Linked DNA regions of Homo sapiens. The protein of the gene in region 1 purifies or fractionates together with the protein of each later gene. This does not show direct contact. Each region holds a gene or a part of one and is shown on either strand. Other genes may lie near its edges.

What was found. The genes of interacting proteins can lie anywhere in the genome.
Region 2: the proteins of OPRL1 (region 1) and SLC25A14 purify together in Homo sapiens (affinity purification with mass spectrometry; one large-scale study listed by BioGRID and IntAct). This does not show direct contact.

Annotation. Positions count from the first base shown.
Region 1 is NC_000020.11:64,086,582-64,090,081, reverse strand, and holds part of OPRL1 (nociceptin receptor), read right to left. Parts: coding exon of another isoform or gene 3,483-3,500; intron 458-3,482; exon of another isoform or gene 323-457; intron 1-322.
Region 2 is NC_000023.11:130,360,419-130,363,918, reverse strand, and holds part of SLC25A14 (brain mitochondrial carrier protein 1 isoform 1 precursor), read right to left. Parts: intron 1-3,500. UniProt on the Homo sapiens protein: Transports inorganic anions (sulfate, sulfite, thiosulfate and phosphate) and, to a lesser extent, a variety of dicarboxylates (e.g. malonate, malate and citramalate) and, even more so, aspartate and glutamate and tricarboxylates.

The DNA of each region.
Region 1 (3,500 bases):
GACACCTTTGGGAACAGGCAGACACAGACCAAGGCCCTCCGACACCCAGAGGACACACACATGCACAAACACGCTCTCCAGGCAAAGCTCGAGGGTGAGCCCCCTGACCTCAGGAGCCGAGAGGGGGCAGGAATCCAGGCAGGCTCGGACTCCTGCAGCCCTCCGCCCCAGCTGGGCTCACCAACGTCTGAGCAGGAGACCCTAGACCCTCCTACCCGAGCTTCCTGAGCCTGCCTCCCAGCCTGGGACCCAGCCTGGGCACTGTAGGCACTGAGGGTGGGCAGAGCAGAGACCTCGTAAGGGAAGGACAAAGGAGCCCAACCTGATGTCCCCGGACCAGGAACCAGTGTCAGAGGCCAGGGCAGAGTGTGGGACACAAGCACCTCATCCCTGCTACTGCAGACACCTCTCCCTTCGCATGTCTGTCTTCCACCTGGGTCACCCCACAGCTTCCTCCCTACAGGCAGAGACAGGGAGGATGAGGGGTTGGGATGGGGAGGAGGAGGAAAGGGAAAGGAGTGGGGAGGAAGTATGGAGAGATCAAGAGAGAGGATGGGTAAGGAAGGATGGGAGAAGAGGGAGGAAAACACGCTGGGGATAGGAGGACAGGAAGAAAGGAGGGGGGACGAGGTCAGACCTAGCTCCCTGACCCCCACCTCTTTTGACCCCAAGCCTTCTCACCCAGCAATAGCAACCAGCCACCTGCACCCCCACCAAGGCAGCTCCCAGCTCTGCCTTGCCTGGCCTTTCAGGAGTCAATAGAGACCTCAACTCCCTCTGTGGGAGCCGTTCAGGGTCCAGCAGAAGGCCGTGGCCTCCCCAGTCCAGGTGTTCACAATCTCATAATGTGTTCCCTTGAACTTCTTGTGTGTTCTGTGTCATTCTGCCCTGACATGTTCATAACCATAGAACCCAGGACAGCTTCTCCCTCCCTTGTGCCTGCGGCAAACCCCCAGCACAGACCCTGGCATGCTGAACAGCCTAGGCCCCCTGCGCAGAACCTGCCCCCCACCCACATAGACCCCTAGCCCACGGTACAGACCTTGCCCCCTGCATTGACCCTGCGCACCTGCCTGCACACAACCTGTCCCCCCTGCAAAGATCCTGCCCCCTTGCAAAGACCCTGGCCACTCTGCACAGATCCTACCCCTTGCACAGATCCTGGCCACTCTGCACAGACCCTGGCCACTCTGCACAGACCCTGGCCACTCTGCACAGACCCTGCCCTCCCTGCACAGATCCTGCCCTCCCTGCACAGATCCTGGCCACTCTGCACAGATCCTGGCCACTCTGCACAGATCCTACCCTCCCTGCACAGATCCTGGCCACTCTGCACAGATCCTACCCCTTGCACAGATCCTGGCCACTCTGCACAGACCCTGGCCTCCCTGCACAGATCCTGGCCACTCTGCACAGATCCTGGCCTCCCTGCACAGATCCTGGCCACTCTGCACAGATCCTGGCCACTCTGCACAGATCCTACCCCTTGCACAGATCCTGGCCACACCTGCAAAGATCTAGTGCCCCCAAAACCTGGCACAGACCGTGCCCCCACCCCACATAGATGCTATCCCCGTGCGTAGATCTTGGTCCCTCTGTACAGATCCTGCCCTCCCTGGACGGGTCCTGTCCCCCGACTCCCTTGAACAGACACTGACTCCCAATGTAGATCCTACCCACTGCACAGATCCTGGCCCCACTGCAAAGATCCTGCACGCTGCACAGATCCTGTTACCCCCTAAAAGTCCTCCCCGCAGAGACTCCTGCCCCCATGCAGAGATCCTGGCCTCAATGCACAGATCCTGGCCCATGTGCAGATTCTGGCCCCTTGCATGGATCCTGCCCCACCCCAGCCAGCTCCAGTCCTACCTCCTCCAAGAAGCCTACCCCAGGACCCCCAGCCCTGGGAACCTTCCTAACTTGGCCATTATTCAGTAATACGGCTGCCAGGCTAGGCCTGTGAGCTCTGGTCTCAGCAGATATCCTCTGAGAGTGTGGTCAGCAGAGCCCCGCAGGAGGCAGGCACCTGGCCCCTCACAGGCGCAGTCTTAGAGTGAAAGACAGGCCTGGTCACCTGGCTAGGGGATTGGCCAGGTGTGACACTGACAGTGCTCCCTGGGGTTGGCAGGGGCCCAGCCCTGGACCCAGAAACGCTCCCACGGAGGAGAACTGGTGGTGCAGATGAAATGGCCCAGGTATCTCTAGACCCCTAATAGAGTCCTGCCCTCCCCCAACCTGCCAAGGGTGGGGTGGTCCCTCCAGAAGGGGGAAGGTAGAATCAGGGTCCTATATAGAACATATATGTTACACAAGAGATAGCAAGAGGCACATGTTATATGAGAGAGCAAGACAACCTCAAACACACATGTTCTGGGCAGGCGAAACAATATGCAAGGATACTAGGGATAGCCCAAGACACGAACGATGACACGCGAATGACAGCACAGAGCTTGTGTGCGAGGATACTAGGGATAGCCCAAGACACGAACGATGACACGCGAATGACAGCACAGAGCTTGTGTGCGAGGATACTAGGGATAGCCCAAGACACGAACGATGACACGCGAATGACAGCACAGAGCTTGTGTGCGAGGATACTAGGGATAGCCCAAGACACGAACGATGACACGCGAATGACAGCACAGAGCTTGTGTGCGAGGATACTAGGGATAGCCCAAGACACGAACGATGACACGCGAATGACAGCACAGAGCTTGTGTGCGAGGATACTAGGGATAGCCCAAGACACGAACGATGACACGCGAATGACAGCACAGAGCTTGTGTGCGAGGATACTAGGGATAGCCCAAGACACGAACGATGACACGCGAATGACAGCACAGAGCTTGTGTGCGAGGATACTAGGGATAGCCCAAGACACGAACGATGACACGCGAATGACAGCACAGAGCTTGTGTGCGAGGATACTAGGGATAGCCCAAGACACGAACGATGACACGCGAATGACAGCACAGAGCTTGTGTCCACAGATTAAAGCCTGACACAGGCTGCTCTTGGAGCTCCTGGGTATTTGGGCAGGCCTGGGTTCCGGGGTGAGATTCACACCCACTCAGCAGGCAAATACACACACCTCACTCTCATCCAGTGACTCAGAATCAGCAAACGCCAGACGGCAGCTGGAACACTGTCTTTTGTCCTCCCCACTCCCACCCCCAGGGCAGGCACAGTCTACCCTCCTCCTTCCACAGGCTCACCACCCTGGGCTGGCCAAGAACAGGAATCAAGGCAGAGGGTCTGGCAGCCCCTCACAGAGCAGCCATCCCCCAGGGAAGCCAGTCACCAGGCCGCACATTTGTGCTATTAAAAAAGTGAAAGAATTTTTAACAATTCTGAGTTTCATCAAAATAAATTACTTTGTCCTTGTGATTTTAACTTTACAAAATCTATATACAATGACAAAAAAAATTGAGTTGTAGCTTCTCAATATCATGTTAAATTTTGTAGTCATTAATAAAGCTTACTAATTTGACTTGAAGTTT
Region 2 (3,500 bases), on another chromosome or scaffold:
TTAAAAAAATTTTTTAAATTAGCCAGGCATGGTGGCATGTGCCTGTAGTCCCAGCTACTTGAGATGCTGAGGTGGGAGGATCACCCGAGCCTGGGAGGCTGAGGCTGCAGTGAGCCATGATTGCACCACTGCATTCCAGCTTGGGCAACACAGCAAGATCCTGCCTCAAAAAAAAATTTAAAAAAATTAAGAAAGAAAAAGTAAAAGAGCAAGTGTTGGTGAGGATGTGAAGAAATAGGAACCCTTATATGCTGTCAGTGGGAATGTAAAATGGGGCAGCCACTGTGGAAAACAATTTGGCACTTCCTCAAAAAGTTAAACACAGATTACCATATGAGCGAGCAATTCTACACCTAGGTATATACCCAAGAGAACTGAAAATAGATGTTCATACAAAAATGTGTACAGAAATGTTCATAGCAGTATTCATAATAGCCAAAATGTGCAAAGAACCCAAATGCTCATTAATTGATGAAGGGACAAATACAATGTGGTATACCCACACAATGGAATTAATATTCACCCATAAAAAGGAATAAAGTACTGATACATGCTGCAACATGGATAAACCTTAAAATCAGTATGCTAAATGGAAGAAGCCAGTCACGAAAGTCTACATATTGCGTGATTCCATTTACATGAAATACCTAGAACAGGTAAATCTATAGAGACAGAAAGTAGATTAGTGGTTGTCCACAGCTAGGAGGGCTGGGGGAAATGAGAAGTGATGGGTAAAGGGTAAGGGTTTCTTTTTGGTAATGAAAATGTTCTAAACTTAGACAGTGGTAATGGCTGCACTAATCTGTGAATATACTAGAAACAATTAAATCGTATACTTTAAAGATGGTGAATTTTATGTGAATTATCTCAATAAAGAATTTGGGAATTATCATTATAATATGTGAATTTTCCCAATAAAGCTGTTATAAATAAAATCATGAAGCAAAAATCAGTGGGGAGAAGAGAGCTTTCAGGTTTAATTCACAGAATTTTCAGATGTGCAGAAAGGACAAACACTAAGGTGACAGCAAAGGTATGAAGAAGCAAGAGGAAAAGCCAAGGGAAAGTGGTCCTTCGCTTACAAGTCCTGCTGTGGTAACATTACCAGGGTTTCACTCACTAGCACGATGCTCCTATCACAGCTCACATTACAACACAGGGTTGCTAGAGCATTAAAAGTCACATTTTTGAAGAATATTAATGACACAAGAAAACGCTTATGATAGCATGATAGCATGTTAAATAAAGCAAGGCATAAAATTATATATAGTATTATTCTATCTTCAGGGGAAAAGGTATACACACCAGGCCAAATTCTTAGGATTAGAACGAAATACATCAAAATATTTTTTTCCTCTGGTATTAGGATAAGAGATGTTAATTTTCATTTTTATGCCTATTTCTTTTTACATTTTCACAATGAATGTTTTACTTTTATAACTGTGTTTAGGTGTCAGTTAAAATTGAAAATAACATACCATGAGGACATCTGCTTTCTGGGATAACCACTATATTAAAAAGTTTTCAGTCATCTCTAAGTTCCCAAACTCAATTTATAAAGTGGGGCTGCTCTGCCTATGGAGTAGCCATTCTTTATTCCTTTACTTAATAAACTTGCTTTCACTTAAAAAAATAATAATAATAATCCCAGCTACACAGGAGGCTGAGGCAGGAGAATCGCTTGAACCCAGGAGGCGGAGGTTGCAGTGAGCCGAGATCGCGCCACTGCACTCCAGCCTGGCAACATAGCAAGACTCCGTCTCAAAAAATAAATAAATAAATAAATAAATAAATAAATAAATAAATAAATAAATAAAATGAAGTGGAAGTGACACAGCTATGCCAAGATGTTTGATTGTGCTGATATGGCTGGCTAGCCGAAGGGTGCCTTCCTTGCTGGCTCTTTGACCTGCTTCTCATAAAGAGGGTACCCTTCACAGAAGACTGCTTTGGTGAACAGTAAGGCCCCAAACTGGAGCCCACAGGCCAAAATCAGGCTATAGGCATGTTTCGAGTGGCCCACAGTGTTTCCAAAAGACTGAATTGGCTGTTAATATGTAAAAATCAGGATATTTCACACAGAAATGCAGATTTCCAGCTTCTCTTGAAAGGCCAGAAAATTTGACCACACCGGGCTCACCATCAACGCATGGCAGCAATGGGCTGGAGCTAAGGAGTAGCTGTCCTCTCTCAACGGGGACTGTGCTCTCCGTGCTCTCCAGGACCACAGTCCCCACCATGCTACTCTCTCTCCAACTCTGTGGTAAGTGCTAGTTATACTTTGTTATTGTGCTCGTGCTATTTTTTCTTACAATGAAGTTAGGAAGAAAGTGAAATGTTTTCAGTATTCATGTTACAATCAGAGCAGGAAGATAAACAAAGATGAGCACGTTTGAAGAAAAATGCAAACATATTTTCTTGTTGAAATGAAAAAGTAAGTCCTGTATTTTTAACATGCAAATAAAACATGTCTGTCTCAGAAGAATACATTCAACAATGTACTTTGCTTCTTTATGTTAGGTGCCTAGATCATGTAAGTAGCCTGGATCATAAAAACAGTTATGTTCAGTTTCTCAAAAAATAAACATAGATTTACCACATAATCCAGCAATTCCACTTTCGGCTATATAACCAAAAGAATTGAAAGCAGGGTCTAAAAAAGATATTTGCACACCCATTTACCCAGCAGCATTATTCACAATAGGCAAAAGGCAGAAGCCATTCAAATGTCCATCAATGGTTGAATGGATAAACAAAATGTGGTATATACATACAATGGAATATTATTCAGCCTTAAAAAGGAAGAAATTCTGACACATGCTACCACATGGATGAACCTTGAGAACATCATGCTAAGTAAAATCAGCCAGTCACAAAAAGATAAATATTGTGTGATTCCACTTACATGAAGTACCTATAATAGTCAAATTGATAGAGACACAAAAGAGAATGGGGGTTGCCAGGGGCTAGGGGAAGGAGAAATGGGGAGTTGCTTCATGGGTATAGAGTTTCAGTTTGATAAGACCTAAAGAGTTCTGGAGATCAGTTGTACAACAATGTGAATGTACTTAATTAACACTACTGAACCATCAAAAATGGTTAAGATGGTAAATTTTATGTTATGTCTACTTTTTACTACAATAAAAAATAAAGTAGCTATGCTCCTGTGAAAAAATCTCCAATTCTATTTATTCCTCTGTTTTTGTTCCTTGTCATCAGTTTGTGAGAAAGTTCTAGTTAGTTCTATTTTCTGGCTTTAAATTAGACATATCAAGCAAGTGTACCCTGCTGTTACCAAAAAGCAAACCTCAAGGACCATTAATGGATGCAAAGACCATTAGTTAGATGAAAGGTGATTAGATATTAGGATATATGCATATTACTAGAATATTATCACCCCACAGATTACTTGCTAATTGCAAAGGAGGGGGAAAAAACTTATGTTTTACAATGGCGAGATCTGGTGGACGTCATCTTACCAAATAATCAAACTTGGCACC